Regions from separate parts of the Homo sapiens genome. Here region 2 is linked to region 1. A link means that fine-mapping ties the variant in region 1 to the expression of a gene that starts in the linked region. Tissue or cell type: tibial nerve. Region 1 holds a variant in brackets; the other region holds the start of a gene. All regions are shown on one strand. Distances are from middle to middle.

Region 1 (8,136 bases):
AAATCAGACATAAAACCAAATCCTGCAGGTTGCTGAATTACAACGCAGGTTGAATTCATAGGATCTCCAGGTCTCATATGCAAAAACATGGCTACTGATTAGGGAACAATGGGACCTTGAGACTAGGAATAGGAACATCAGGATTGATTTGGATAGATCTGAGCACCCTAAACCCCAACCCTCACTGAGTTTCCCCTGGCAGCAGAAGCAGCCCTTCTTCCCCAGTCTATGGGGCTGGTCCTGCCTGACTTGGGGACCCTCTCACTGTTAGGCTAATCTTTTCAAGATCCACCCGTATCATCTCTTGCTGCCTCCAGACCCATTACTGAATTCAGATTCCTGTATGTCCCAGGAAGTAAAGTCAAACCTATGAGGAGAAAGCACACACACACAAATGATAAGATTTAGCTAATTTATACTGGCAGAAACCTCCATAATATGGGTGACAGAGTGAGACCATGTCTCAAAAAAAAAAAAAAAAAAAAAAAAGAAAAAGAAAAAAAGAAACCTCCATAATATGTGAGAACTGATTCTATGGATGATAGATCGGGAAAAAGAAGTGTAATTTTTGATTGGGCCAAACTTTTTTTTTTTTTGAGACGGAGTCTCGCTCTGTCTCCCAGGCTGGAGTGCAGTGGAGCGATCTCAGCTCACTGCAAGCTCCGCCTGCTGGGTTCACACCATTCTCCTGCCTCAGCCTCCCGAGTAGCTGGGACTACAGGCGCCCACCACCACACCTGGCTAATTTTTTGTATTTTTAGTAGAGACAGGGTTTCACTGTGTTAGCCAGGATGGTCTCGATCCCCTGACCTCGTGATTAGCCCGCCTCGGCCTCCCAAAGTGCTGGGATTACAGGCATGAGCCACCCTTTTTTGTTTTTTTTTTTTTTTTGATATGGATTTTCGCTCTTGTTGCCCAGGCTGGAGTGCAATGGCTTGATCTCGGCTCACCACAACCTCCGCCTCCCGATTTCAAGTGATTCTCCTGCCTCAGCCTCCCGAGTAGCTGGGATTACAGGCATCCACCGCCAGGCCTGGCTAATTTTGTATTTTTAGTAGAGACGGGTTTCTCCATGTTGGTCAGGCTGGTCTCGAACTCCCGACCTCAGGTGATCCACCCACCTTAGCCTCCCAAAGTGCTGGGATTACAGGTGTGAGCCACTGCGCCTGGCTGGGCCAAACTTTTTCATTGTGGTAAACTATATATAACATAAAAATTTCTGGAAAGGCTCACTGTAGCTGCCACCTCCCAGGTTCAAGTGATTCTCCTGCCTCAGCCTCCCAAGTAGCTGGGATTACAGGCACATGCCACCACGCCCAGCTAATTTTTGTATTTTTGGTAGAGATGGGTTTCACCATGTTGGCCAGGATGGCCTCGAACTCCTGACCTCAGGTGATCCGCCCACCTCGGCCTCTCAGAGTGCTGGGATTACAGGCGTGAGCCACTGCGCCTGGCCTCCTTTGCCCATTTTTAAATTGAATTGCTTGTCTTTTTGTTGTTGAGTTGTAGGAGTTGTTTGTATATTCTGGATAGTAAATCCTTATCAGATATATGACTGCAAATATGTTATCTTATTCTGTAGGCTGTCTTTTCACTTTCTTGATGTCCTTTGATGCACAAAATTTTTAATTCTGATGAAGTCCAATTTATCTGTTTTTTCTGTTGTTGCTCATGCTTGTAGTGTCACACCTGAGACTGTTGCCACATCCAAGGTCATGAACATTAACTCCTATGTTTTCCTCCAGTTTTATGGTTTTAGGACTTAAATTTAGGTCATTAATCCATTTTGAGTTAATGGTATCTGGTGTGAATTAGGCATCCAACTTCATACTTTTGCATGTGAAAATCCAGTTGTCCCAGCACCATCTGTTGAAGAGACTAATCTCTCCCCTCGTTGAATGGACTTGGCACTCTTGTAAAACATCAATTGGTGGCTGGGCACAGTGGCTCACACCTGTAATCCCAACATTTTTGGGAGGCTGAGGTGGGAGGACTGCTCGAGCCCAGGAGTTTGAGGCCAGTCTGGGCAACAGAGTGAGACCCTGTCTCTACAAAAAAAAAAAAAAAAAAAAAAAATTAGCTGGGTGTATTGGCACATGCCTTTTAAATCCCACCTACTTGGGATGCTGAGGTAGGAGGATCATTTGAGCCCAGGAGTTTGAGGCTGCAGTGAGCCTCAAACTGCAGTGAGCCAAGATTACGCCACTGCACTCCAGCCTGGGCAACAGAGCAAGACTGTGTCTTGAAAAAAAAAAATTGGCCATTTGACTTTGTTCTTTTTTTTCTAAGATTGTTTTGGCTATTCACGGCCCCTTGTAATTCCATATGAATTTGAGGATCAGCTTTTTCATTTCTTTTTTTTTTCTTTTTTTTTTTGAGACGGAGTCTTGCTCTGTCACCCAGGCTGGAGTGCAGTGGCGCGATCTCAGCTCACTGCAACCTCCGCCTCCCAGGTTCAAGCAATTCTTCTGCCTCAGCCTCCCGAGTAGCTGGGATTACAGGCATGGATTACCATGCCCGGATAATTTTTTTAAATTATTTTTAGTAGATACGGGGGTTTCACCATGTTGGCCAGGCTGGCCTCGAACTCCTGACCTCGTGATCTGCCCGCCTCAGCCTCCCAAAGTGCTGGGATTACAGGCATAAGCAACCGCACCCCGCTAGCTTTTTCATTTCTGCAAAAAAGCTGTTGGAATTTTCATAAGGACTGTGTTGAATCTGTAGATCACTTTGGCTAGTATCAACATCTTATCAGTATTAAGTCTTCCAATCTATGAACATGAGATGCCTTTCCATTTCTTTAGATCTTTAATTTCTTTCACCAATGTTTCATGGTTTTCAATATACAAGTCTTTCTCCTCCTTGATTAAATTTATTCCTAGATATTTTATTCTTTCAGATGCTATTGTAAATTGAATTGTTTTCTTAACTTCATTTTGGATTGCTCATTGCTAGTGTATAAAAGCACACTGCTTTTTATGTGTTGATCTTGCACCTTGCAACTTTGCTGAATTTATTAGCTGTATGCCTTTTTTATTTTTTTAAGAGAGATGAGGTCTCATTCTGTCACCTAGGCTGGAATGCAGTGGCATGATCATAGCTCACTACAGCCTCAAACTCCTGGACTCAAGGGAGCCTCCTTCCTCAGCCTCCCGTGTAGCTGGGAGTACAGACACACATCACCATGCCCAGCTAATTTTTAAATTTTTTTTGTAGAGATGGGGTCTTGCTATGTTGCCTAAGCTGGTCTCGAACTCCTGGCTTCAAGCAGTCCTCCCACCTCAGCCTCCCAAAGTGCTGGGAT[C/T]ATAAGTGTTGGCTACCACACCCAGCCTGAAATGCCTTTTCTGCATCAAGTGAGATGATCATGTGTTTCTTTTCCTTTGTTCTATTAATGTGATGTTATTACCTTGATCGATTTTCTTATGTTGAACCATTCTTGCATTCCTAAGATAAATCCCACTTGGCCAAGACGTATCCTACTTTTAATATGCTGTTGGATTTAGTTTGCTAGTATTTTGTTGGGGATTTTGCATCTATATTCATAAAGGATATTTGTCTGTAATTTTATTTTCTTGTGATGTCTTTATCTGGTTTGGGTAGGGCCAAACTTTTCAGTATGGGTACACTCATCAGCAATCCTGGATGTACTTTGTTAGTTGAAGCAGCTAGGAGTATTTCTAAAAATTGTTCTATTGATTGACCAAAACCTCTACTCAATAGTAGCTTGTGTTAAATGAGGTTAAGATGCCAGAAATTCCATGGTACAGTGTAGGCAGGGGAATCCATCGTTTAGGGCAATAAGAATGTTGGAATCGATTAGTCATATGTAACACATTCAACTCACCCTTTTGACTATGTGGACATTGACATTCCTTTCACAGGACTTTGAGAAATACACTGTGGTAGAGACTAGCTAAGTGGTCATTAAACTTGTTTCCTCTTCCTCCTAGGGACAGATTTAGACTACATTTGTCAGTGTCCCTTACAGTTGGGTATGCCCATTGTCTGAGTTCTGGCTAATGGAATATGAGAAGTGATGTGTGCTACATCCGGCTCATAGAAACCTCCCACATGGTCTTTTCCTCTTCTGGCTATTAAGGATGGAGATGACAATAAATACAATGATGACCATGTTTTGAAGATGGCAGACCTTCTAGACAGAAAGTGCCTAAGCCTCTGAATCATCACTTAGAAGAGGGAAACTCAATTATTAACACCTGTTTTGGAATACTACAGAAGCAAGAAGTAAACTTGTCTTAAATCTCAGAAAATTTTTTTCTGTCCCAGGAGCTAGCTTTACCTTAACTAGTACATGAATGAGTACCAGTATTATAAAGCATTGCAGTGATTTATTTCTGCAGGTGAGGGTCATGGTGAGAAATCATGAATGGGCTCCCTGATTTCAATGGAGGTGACAGGTTCATCTCCAAAGAGAAGTTGGGTCTCGTTCTTATAATGGATAGCAGAGCCATAGCAATAATCAGGTTTGACCTGTGGAGGTTTGTATAACAGTGGATAATTAAGGATAGTTTCCCTAGGACCAAAATAGGTAGCCTGATAAAGTCCTAGTTGTTATATAACCCCAATAATCTTCTACTCTGGAAAATGGAGGCCTGATTTTGTCCTCAAAAATGTGGCATCCCAGCCTCTTCCCCAGTTCATAGACCAGAGCCCCTTGAATGAAGGGGAGGGTCCATCTGAAGAAGGACCTTGCTACACTTTTCACAAGTGTGTATGGCAAAATCTCCCTCCTTGCTTTCCTCACAGAGACCTGCAGCCACAGTCATTGTACACTGGGGACAGGGAAATATCCAGGCCTTTGAAATAGACTGGATATTGGTTCTGAATTAATGTTAATCTCTGGTGATCCAGATTGCCACTGCAGCCCATCAGTCAGAGTGGGATGGGGTTATACATGAAGTTTTGATCTGAGTCTTTCTTACACTGGGCCCAGAAGAAATCCTGTGGTGATTTCTCCAGTTCTTGGATATACTATTCGAATCTACACAGTATAGATGGCATAAAGGGGAGGAGGACTACAGCTGAAGAGCAAGTTAAAGATTCAAGAAATGGGGGATAAAATTGGAGGTGGCAATATCGTGACAACAGGAGTCCCAGGAGCAGAGAAAAATAAAAATGGAAAAGTGGGTCTATTTTGTGAATGAATGGCTGAGCATAGGACTCCAAGTGACCCAGGCAAGCTGAGCTCCCCATGGTGAGTTGTGTGTTAACTGTCTCATCAAGCCACGAAGTTATCTATGTGCAGTAGCACTCCACCACCGAATAGAATAGAGTTATACAAGCAGGCCTAGATGATGAATAAGCTGCCTGAGCAAGTGAATCATACTCCCAACTGCTGTACTGCCATCCCTCTCTCACCCACACCTGAAGCCTCATGGGGAATTCCCTGTGACCAGGTGACTAAGGGATACAATATTCTATTCCAGCTTGGTTTATACATAGCCCTGCATGATATGCTGGCCCTGCTGAAGTAGCTAGCTGTAGTGTTACAGCCCTACTTAGGGTTGATCCTGAAGGACAGTGAGAAGGGAAATTCTCCCAGTAGAACAACTGCCTGGTCACATAGCTGGTCAGAGGTATAGATAGGTTTCCACTGTTTCATGAGTAGTTTTTAATGATTCGGCTAAATGGTGAAGGACTTGGAAATAACAGGACTGAAATATTATTGACAAGGTCTGAGGAAGAGCATATGGCTGTCCCTCTTGGAATGGGCAGAGATATTCACGTCCCACATAAATAAGCACCAGAGAGAGTCCACTGCAGAAGAGGAGCTCAATCAAGTAGACAGGTAGGTGTCCTGTTCTGTGATGTCAGTCAGCCTCTTATCTGTCACCCTTTTCTTTGCCCAATGGATTCCTGAACAAAATGGCCATGGTGGCAGGCATGGAGGTTATGCATGGACTCCACAATATGGACTTCCACCACGACCAATCTGGCTATAAGCCACTGCTGAGTGCCCAACCTGCCAACAGAACAGTAACCCAAGCCCCCCTGTGGAACTATTTCTTGGTGGCAGCTGATTACAGACAAGACAAAATGAAAAAAAGCCACTGGACCCCCAAAATTCTACTGGCAGGAAGCAAACTGGGGAAACAGTTCAGCTGCAAACATTTGCTGCCTTTCATGAAAAAGGAAGGCACACAGGGTAAAACCAAGAGATCAGAGGGCAGAGCCTTAGAATATTATTCCCAGGCCTTGACATCTAATCAAGAAACTTCCATTTTCCCAGCTGGATTTCAGAGTTGTTAGTTATAGACCAGTAACTCCTTTATGTCTCCCATTTCCCCTCTTTTTGAACCAGAATGTCTGTAGTAGTTGTCCTATGGCTATCCCACCATTGTACCTAGGGTGTGTTGGGGACAGATAACTTGCCTCTTAAGTCTCACAAATCAGCCAGGCACGGTGGCTCATGCCTGTAATCCCAGCACTTTGGGAGGCCAAGGTGGAAGGATTGAGCCCAGGAGTTTGAGAACAGTCTGGGCAATATAGTAAGATCTCGTCTCTATAACAAAATAAAAATAAAAAATAATTTTCTTTTTTTTTTTTGAGACGGAGTCTTGCTCTGTAGCCCAGGCTGGAGTGCGGTGGCGTGATCTCGGCTCACTGCAAACTCCGTCTCCCGGGTTCAAGCGATTCTCCTGCCTCAGCCTCCAGGCGCCCACCACCACTCCCGGCTAATTTTTTGTATTTTTAGTAGAGACGGGGTTTCACCGTGTTAGCCAGGATGGTCTCGATCTCCTGACCACATGATTCGCCCGCCTCGGCCTCCCAAAGTGCTGGGATTACAGACGTGAGCCACTGCACCCGGCCAAAAAATAATTTTTTACAAAAAAACAATTGTCTCACAAATCTAAAGATGGAGAAAAATAGTAGTTAAGAAGCCATACTCAAACAGCCTCTTTCATATATGGACCTGATTTAGATGTTCTGGATTTTGGGGCAATGCTGTAATTGGATGAGACTTTGAGAGACTTTGGGAAGTGGTGAATGTATATTGCATGTGGAAGCAACATGAATCACCAGGACCAGTGGAAAAACTATAGTTGTCAGTCTCCAAGATGACCCCCAATGACCCCCCGCCTCCTGGTATTCACACCTTTGTGTAATCCCCTCCCATTGAGTGTGGCCTGGACCTAGTAACTGACCTACTTTTTTTTTTTTTGAGACGGAGTTTGCACTTGTTGCCCAGACTGGAGTGCAATGGCGCGATCTTGGCTCACCGCAACCTCTGCCTCCCGGGTTCAAGCAATTCTCCTGCCTCAGCCTCCTGAGTAGCTGGAATTACAGGCACCCGCGACGACACCCAGCTAATTTTGTACTTTTAGTAGAGATGGGGTTTCTCCATGTTGGTCAGGTTGGTCTCGAACTCCTGACCTCAGGTGATCCGCCCGTCTCAGCTTCCCAAAGTGCTGGGATTACAGGTGTGAGCCACTGTGCCCGGCAGTAACTGACTTACTTCTAACGAATAGAATATTGCAAAAGTGATGGGATCTCACATCTGAAATTAAGTTATAAAGACTATGAGTTCTGTCTGGCATGTGGGCACTCTCCTTCTATCTCTAGCTCATCTTACTTGTTTGCTGTGATGAAGCAAGCTGCCATATTATGAGCCACCCTATGAAAGGGTGCACATGGCAAGGAACCTGAGAGTGACCCCCAGCCAACAGCCAGCAAGACTGAATATGCCAACAGCCACATGAGTCAGCTTGAAAGCAGATCTTTCCCCAGTCAAGCCTTGAGATGACTGTAGCCCCAGCTCACACCTTGCTGGCTGTGAGACCCTGAAACAGAAACTCAGCTAAGTTGTGCCCAGATTCCTAACCACAGGGACTGTGAGATAAAATGTTGTTTTAAGCCACTGTTTTTGAGATAATTTGTTATGTAGCAAATATATAACCAATAGAGATAGGCGTGGAGGTTATGTACCTCGGCAATATGAACTTCTAACCTACCAAGGCCACTGTGGCCCTAGCACTGCTGAATTCCCAACCTACCAACAGCAGAGATCAACACTGAGCTCCCACTGTGAACTATTTCCGGATTGCAGGCTGATTACTTTGGACCCCTTCTGTCTAGCACAGGCCTTAGGGTCACAGAGATTTGGTGAAAATCCCA
Region 2 (8,136 bases), 90 kb before region 1:
CCTTGTCCTCTCTAGAGGGCCTCAGTTTTCCTATCTATAAACTGAGGCTTATCGTGCAGGGGGATCAGTCCAGGAGAAGCAACCTGCCTAAGGTCTCAAGACAGAGTCTAGCCTTGAAGCAGGTCTCTGAAGTCTGGCCTTCACTGTGCTCTTCCCTGATTCCTCTCTGTCCCCCCAATCAAATCCCCAGCCCCTCATCCTGGCATTTGAGACTCTTCTTCACCCACCCTGTTAGAGAGGGCCTCTGGTCTTCATCTTCAGTGATGCTCTTAAGAGTCAATCATAGTATTCTAGTATAGTTGGCCAGGGTGCTCATGTCCTCGGCTGAGCCATGTGAGGACAGGATGTTCTTTGCCCAGAGTAACATCTTGTTCCCTGTGCCCTCACTCTTCAGTCTGGACCTCCGAAAGAGAGGGCTGTTCTAGGTCTTTAAGGTCACATCTAGCTCCAAGATACTGTCTTCGCTGAAGGCCAGAGAAGACAGGCCCCATTGGCTGAGACCTTAAACAGAAACCAGGAGGATGAAGAGTCATGGGCCCAATGTGCCCTAGGGCCTGTTCCCATGTTGAAACTACTTGTCTTCATATGCTTCCTAGCTTGCCCTCGCTCCTTTGCAGCAGAGGGCCCTGCTCCTGGGTGGGAGGTTCCTGGGATTTCCTGGGACCAGACCTTTAAAGTGCCACCTACTTCTGTGAGTAGAATCGGATTGGCAGGGACAAAACTAGATTCAAGAATGTCCCTCCTTAGGTGACCCAAAGGGCTGGCACTGGCTCCCCCAGTTGGGGGTGTGCAGGATGGTTGGGAAGGAATCCTATTATTCATTCAGTAAACACTTATGAGTACTTACTGTGTGCCTGAAGTACTGAACTGGGTGATAGGGATACAGCAGGGAAACAAGATAGAGCAAGTCTTTTTTTTTTTTTCTTTGTTGCCCAGCCTGGAGTGCAGTGGCACAATCTCCGCTCACTGCAAGCTCCGCCTGCCGGGTTCACGCCATTCTCCTGCCTCAGCCTCCCGAGTAGCTGGGACTACAGGCGCCTGCCACCACGCCCGGCTAATTTTTTGTATTTTTAATAGAGACGGGGTTTCACCATGTTAGCCAGGATGGTCTCGATCTCCTGACCTCATGATCAGCCCGCCTCGGCCTCCCAAAGTCCTGGGATTACAGGCGTGAGCCACCGCACCCAGCCAATAGAGCAAGTCTTTTTCCTCCTGGAGCCTAGAGTTCAAGACAAATATTCTTAATATTTTTTGTGCCATGGACCCCTTTGGTGATCTAGTGAAGCCTAATGGGACCTTTCTTTTTCTTTTCTTTTCTTTTTTTTTTTTTTTTTTAGATGGAGTCTCACTCTTGTTGCTCAGGCTGGAGTGCAATGGTGCGATCTCGGCTCACTGCAACCTCCACCTCCTGGGTTCAAGCAATTCTCCTGCCTCAGCCTCCCGAGTAGCTGGGATTACAGGCGCCCGCCACCACGCCCGGCTAATTTTTGTATTTTTAGTAGAGACAGGGTTTCACCATGTTGGCCAGGCTGGTCGGGAACTCCTGACCTCAGGTGATTCACCCGCCTCCGACCTCCCAAAGTTCTGGGATTACAGGCATGAGCCACCATGCCCCACCAGACCTTTTCTCAGAAAAAAAAAATTGTTTAAATTCATAAAATAAAATATCTAGAATTACAAAAGAAATTGATTACATTGAAATATAGTTATTAAAATATGGAAAAAGCAAATATGTGCTATAGTATAATCGTATATGTACTCCCCATTAATCCATTAAATCATAAGATTTAATGGAGGGTCTAATGACTATCATGATTTTAAAATAATGATTGAAATTATATGATTTTCAAGAGATCTGCAACATCTATAATGTGATATGAAAATCTCTGATTTCTATTAGTGACAATCAGTACTGCTACTACTGCTGCTACTATGCCTAGTTACATTCTTTATTGAAAAATGCTAAATTTCAGTTAGAGGAGAGGGAAAATAAAGATGTAATTTTGTTTTATTTTTTTGAGACGGAGTTTCAATCTTGTTGCCCAGGCTGGAGTGCAATGGTACGATCTCAGCTCACGGCAACCTTCGCCTCCCAGGTTCAAGCGATTCTCCTGCCTCAGCCTCCCTAGTAGCTGGGATTACAGGCATGTGCCACCACGCCCGGCTAATTTTGTATTTTTAGTAGAGATGGGGTTTCTCCATGTTGGTCAGGCTGGTCTCGAACTCCGACCTCAGGTGATCCGCCCGCCTCGGCCTCCCAAAGTGCTGGGATTACAGGCATGAGTCACTGCGCCCGGCCATAAAGGTGTAAATTTGTTCCCATCCAAATTCATGGACCTCTCCAAACCCTGTCCCCAGCCTCGATTAGAGGTCTGCAGAATACAAATTAAGAACCCTTGCAAATAGGAGGGTCCTTCCCATCTCTCCTTCCTTCTTAAACAGTTTTCCTTTGGAAGCCTGGGTTTTATTCTGGGTCTTACTGCGCCGACTGCCGGCGGTGTACGGTAAGAAGACGCAAAGACGGGGCGGTGGTGGGGAGTGGTAGCGGGAAGAGGCAGGGCCGGAGCGCGCGAGGGGTGGGGCCTGGCTGTGTGACTTCAAGCCAGTCAGTTTGCCTCTCTGGGCCATAAGTTCTGTCCGCCTGAATACTGGGAAAGAATTGGGAGGAGAGAACTTAATTATTTATGCCCCAGGCAACTGATCTATATTTGCCCTCTCATTTAATCCTCACACATTGTGAGGAAAATTTTAAAACATCTTTCCATTTCCAGATGGTTAAACTGAGGCTCCTAGCGAGGTTGTCACTTGACCAATGTCTCAGCAGGTATCAGGGACTGGTAGGTGACACGCCACATCCCCATAGCCACCTCATCCTCCATGCATGGAATAAGGAACTCTGCTCACTTTGAGCGAGAGAAACCTGGCTTAGGAATCTCTGCAGGTGGGTGTGGAACTGTGAGAAACTAGGGGCAGAATCGCGTCTCTTAGCAGAGCGGTGGCAGTGCAAGGTGGCTTATGGAGAGTAAAACGTCAAAGAAGCCAGGCATCTCGATTGTGCAGTGACTCGGCGCCTGGCGTGGCTTCCGGCTTCCCGCCTGCGTATTCCCAAGTAGCCGCCTGAAGACCTGTCGAATAGACAGGCAAAGGGCCATGACAAGCACTCCTTTCCTGGCCAATCCTATTAAAGGGTGGGCTTGGCTCTTTAACCAATCAAAGTCCCCCGAAGGGGCGGAGTTTTCCTCGGTTTGGCTCTAAGCCTCGGGGGTAAAAATAAAATGTTTCCATCCCCAGCCAATCCCTGGAAAGGCAGAAGGGCACTCCTCCAATGGGAGCCGGGGAGCCGTCGGTAGCGGCGTAGGCCCGTGCCCCTGCTCGCGCTGCAGCCCGTGGAAGGGTTCCGTCCAGCGTATCCTTCAGATCTTGCTGTAGGCCTCTGGTGTCTGTGCGCGCGCGGCAGGGGCGGCGGCGGCGACGGCCGGAGGTGTACGGTGAGAAGCCATAAAGACGGGGCGGTGGGGGGAGTGGCAGCGGGAAGAGGCCGGCCGAAGCGCGCGAGGGGTGGGGCCTGCGCGAGCTTTTACTGGGGCGGCCTCTCAACCCTAGGTCAGCGGGTTGCGGAGGATCGTGCGGGTCGCAAAGGGAAGCCGAGTGCTCCTGCGGCTCCCAGACTGCAACCAGGTGAGTACCCTGCGGAGCGGTCGGTGCCCGTTGCTGCCCTCCCGCGGCCCCACCTCCCACCCTCAGTGTCTTTCGAAACGGTTCCATGCAGGTCTGCCGCTCACGTGATCGTCTGCGTGCGTGTCTGTCTTTGCATCCCCTCTCCCATCTCTGTCTCTGTCCCACTTTTTGAGACGTAGTAGATATAAGATGCTGAATCCTGACCAGTTTAAACTAGCTATGAAACCTTGAGCTATCTCCTTCACCAGCCTGGGCCTCAGTTTCCTCATCTGCCAAATGGGGGTCTGATAATGTGTACCTGAGACAATGCATGTGCATTACTTTGCCCTGCACCCGGTCCTTAGAAAATTTTCAATAAATAATGACTATCTTGACTGAAAAGAATATTGTCTCTCTTGGTTTCTGTCTTTTCTCTGTCTCTGACCCTTCCTCCATTGGATCTTTCTGAATGCTTCTGTCTTTCTCTGTTACTGTTTTTCCTCTTTTTACCCGTCTCTTTCTCAACCCTAAAGAGGTTAGAGGTGCATAGTTTATAGCAATAAGTTTTACCCCCGAGGACATGAGCTTAGCCTGGGGCTCCGACCTGTTCTGTGGGTAAAAAATGGAGCCTGGCTTTGGGTTGCTTCTGGTGTCATTGAAGAGAGAACTCTCTTTGCTCCCCAGCCTACTCTGTTAAACAGGTAGAGACACCCAAAGTTGGGAGCAACTTAGATTAAAAACCACTTTTTAATAGCCCCTTATCCTATATAATGTTAGTCACCACAGGAAGCCCACAGATCTCCTGGTTATGTCTCCATACAGCCCTGGACATCCTATTTTCTATTTCCATCCTGAAATCCTTTGACCAGGCCTTAAGGAACTCACCTTCAGTTATCAGCAAAATTCCCTCCATTCTCATCCTGGCTTCTGAATACTCCCTTTATTTTCTTGCTATGCTTTGGTCGTTCTCATACCTGTTGGACCCAACATTGCTTTTTTTTTTTAATAAGGTGTATTTTGAAATGCTTCACTATTCTAAAATGAAATGGATAGAAAATAGAATCTGTCTACACCCATAATTCCCTGAAAACCAATATAATGCCCTAATTGTAATATAGAGAGTAGTAAAGGAAGAGTAATATATAATATTATATTATACATATATCGCACATATATATGCAAAGACTGGGATATGACTCCATTAGAAGACATGATGAAATGGTCTTACACTTAATGATAGTGACAGCTACATGTGTGTTGATTGGTGATTCAGAAGCCACAGGTAGAGTGACACAGTTTTCCTAAATAATGAACAATTCTTCACAAAGTTCTAAACAAAACAATGTGGAAGAGTTTCTCAGTTTATATGGTCGTTAAATTTCTGGAAAAATCAGTATATATTAATATCCATGATGAGACCCTCTTAATCTCCCTGACCTTATCTCCCACCACTCTCCCCCCTTGCTCACTCTATCTACCCATGCTGGCCACCTTACTATTACTTGAACACCTTAGGCACACTTCCGCCTCAGGGGTTTTGCATTCCGTGTATCTGGAATGCTCTTTCCTCAAATACCCACAAGGCTCAGGCCCTTGCTTCCTTCAGGCCTCTACTCAGCTGTCACTTTCTCAGAGGGCCCCCCAACCATCCTGTTTAAAATTGCAGCTCTCCCCTAATATGCCCCTGCTCTGTCTGTTCCATGGTATTCTACACCTTTTTCACAGTGTAGCATTAACTGCTTAGTATGTTTGCTGTTTATTGTCTGACTCTCCCACTCAATTATAAGCTCCAGAAGGGCAGGGATTTTTGTCTTTTTTGTTCTATGATACATTCCTATTACCTAAAATAGTGCTTGACACCTAGTAGACTTTCTCAATGAATGTTTGTTGAATGAATAAAAGAACAAATGAACAGGTTTTTCACCTACATTACTGGTGAGATATTCTAAAGTTGTATGGAATGTGGTATGATTCTTTGTGGTGTGGAGCTGTCCTGTACACTGCAGAGGGCTGAGCATCCCTGGTCCATAGCTAGGGTTGTCACTGATGATCTCCAATTATTGTCACAGTCAAAAATGCCCCCCAAACAGGGCCGGGTGTGATGGCTCACGCCTGTAATCCCAGCACTTTGGGAGGCCAAGGTGGGCAGATCGCTTGAGTCCAGGAGTTCGAGACCAGCCTGGCCAACATGATGAAACCCCGTCTCTACAAAAAATACAAAAATTAGCCGGGTGTTGTGGTGCACGCCTGTGGTCCCAGCTACTTAGGAGGCTGAGATGGGAGGATTGCTTGAGCCCAGGAGGCAGAGGTTACAGTGAGCCAGGATTGCACCACTGCACTCCAGCCTGGGTGACAGCGAGACCCTGTCTCAAAAAAAAAAGCAGTAAAAAATGGGTCGGGCACTGTGGCTCACACCTGTAATCCCAGCACTTTGGGAGGCCGAGGTGGGTGGATCACCTGAGGTCAGGAGTTCAAGACCAGCCTGGCCAACATGGTAAAACCCCGTCTCTACTAATAATACAAAAATTAGCCAGGCCCACATGGTGGCACATGCCTGTAATCCCAGCTACTCGGAAGGCTGAGGCAGGAGAATCGCTTGAACCCAGGAGGCAGGGGTTGCAGTGAGCCAGCCTGGGCAACAAGAGCGAAACTTCGTCTCAAAAAAAAGAAAAAATGCCCTGAAACACCCTTTAATTGTCCAGCCCCCACCTCTCAGTGAGAACCATTGCTTAAGTAGCAGCCTGGCTTTCCCTGAACACTCTGTCCTCCCGGCAGCCCTCTCATACCCCTCTTACCGGGAAACTGGGTGGTGAGGGTGAGGGTGGGTATGCTTGCTCCTAGTTACCCTTTCCAGACATTCTTCCTCCTCAAACAACCCTTTTTTCATTTGTTTTAAGTTTTTTTTTTTTTTTTTTTTGAGACAGAATCTCACTCTGTCACCCAGGCTAGAATGCAGTGGCACAGTCTTGGCTCACTGAAGCCTCCGCCTCCCAGGTTCAAGTGATTCTCCTGCCTCAGCTTCCAGAGTAGCTGGGACTACAGGCATGCACCACCACGCCTGGCTAATTTTTGTATTTTTAGCAGAGACAGGGTTTCACCATGTTGGCCAGGCTGGTCTTGAACTCCTAACCTCAAGTGATCCACCCGCCTTGGCCTCCCAAAGTGCTGGGATTACAGGTGTGAGCCACCAGGCCCAGCCAAGAATTTTTAAACTTAAAATAATTTCAAACTTTTAAAAAGCTTCAAAAATTATACAAGAATTCTCATATATTCTTCACTTAGATTCCCCACATGTTAAGAAATTATATAATTACAGACTGGGCGCAGTGGCTCACGCCTGTAATCCCAGCACTTTGGGAGGCCAAGGTGGGCAGATCACCTGAGGTCGGGAGTTCGAGACCAGCCTGGGCAACATAGTGAAACCCTGTCTCTACTAAAAATACAAAAATTAGCTGGGTGTGGTGGCTTGTGCCTGTAGTCCCAGCTACTTGGGAGGCTGAGGCAGGAGAATTGCTTGAACACAGGAGGCAGACGTTGCAGTGAGCTGAGATCATGCCACTGCACTCCATCCTGGGTGACACAGCGAGACTCTGTCTCAAAAAAAAAAAAAAAAAAAAGAAAGAAAGAAATTATATAATTACAGTGTAACTATCAAAACTAGAAAATTAACATTGATACATACAGGCATATCACAGGTTCAGTTCCAGACCAACACAATAAAGCAAGTCAGATGAATTTTTTGGTTTCCCAGTGCATATAAAAGTTATGTTTACACTGTACCATAGTCTATTAAGTGTACAATAGCATTGTATCAAAAAAAGTATTTACCTTAATTTAAAAATACTATATTGCTAAAAAATGCTAAAGATCATCCCAGCCTTCAGCAAGTTGTAATTTTTTGCTGGTGGAGGGTCTTACCTCGATGTTGATGGTTGCTGACTGAGCAGGGTGGTAGTTGCTGGTTGGGGTGGCTGTGGCAAATTCTTAAAATAAGATATCAATGAAGTTTGGCACGTCGACTCTTCCTTTCACAAAGGGTTTCTCTGTAGCATGTGATGCTGTTTAATAGCATTTTACCCGCAGTAGAACTTGTTTCAAAACTGGAGTCAGTTCTCTCAAACCCTGCTACTACTTTGTTAACTAAGTTTATGTAATATTCTAAATCCTTTGTTGTTGTTTCCAGTGTTCACAGCATCTTCACCAGGAGTAGATTTCATCCCAGGAAATCACTATTTTGCTCATCCATAAGAAGTAACTCCTCATCCACTAACTTTTTTTCTTTTTTTTTCTGAGACAGGGTCTTGCTCTGTCACCCAGGCTAGAGTGTAGTGGCGCGATCACGGCTCACTGCGGCCTCGACCTCCCAGGCTCAAGCAATCTTCCCACCTCAGCCTCCCAAGTAGCTGGGACTATAGGTGCATGCCACCACGCCCAGCCAATTTTTAAAATTTTGCAAAGGTGGGGTCTTGTTGTGTTGTC

The links. PIP is the estimated chance that this variant, and not a neighbour inherited with it, causes the effect.
Region 2: KANTR starts here. The variant in region 1 is fine-mapped to the expression of KANTR in tibial nerve (GTEx, PIP 0.93).

What each region holds. Positions count from the first base shown.
Region 1 is chrX:53,181,211-53,189,346 of GRCh38, forward strand. It overlaps a transcript of KDM5C not described here. Among named protein-coding and RNA genes, the nearest start is that of MIR6895, 10 kb to the right of the region's middle. RefSeq lists a silencer at 7,709-7,788 and an enhancer at 7,969-8,136. The variant C/T (reference allele first, on the strand shown) is at 3,305.
Region 2 is chrX:53,090,797-53,098,932 of GRCh38, forward strand. KANTR (KANTR integral membrane protein) reads left to right here and starts at 3,346. Exons shown (of 3, transcript NM_001397448.1): 1 at 3,346-3,488. RefSeq lists enhancers at 2,438-3,262, 2,975-3,034, 3,345-3,464 and a silencer at 3,525-3,674.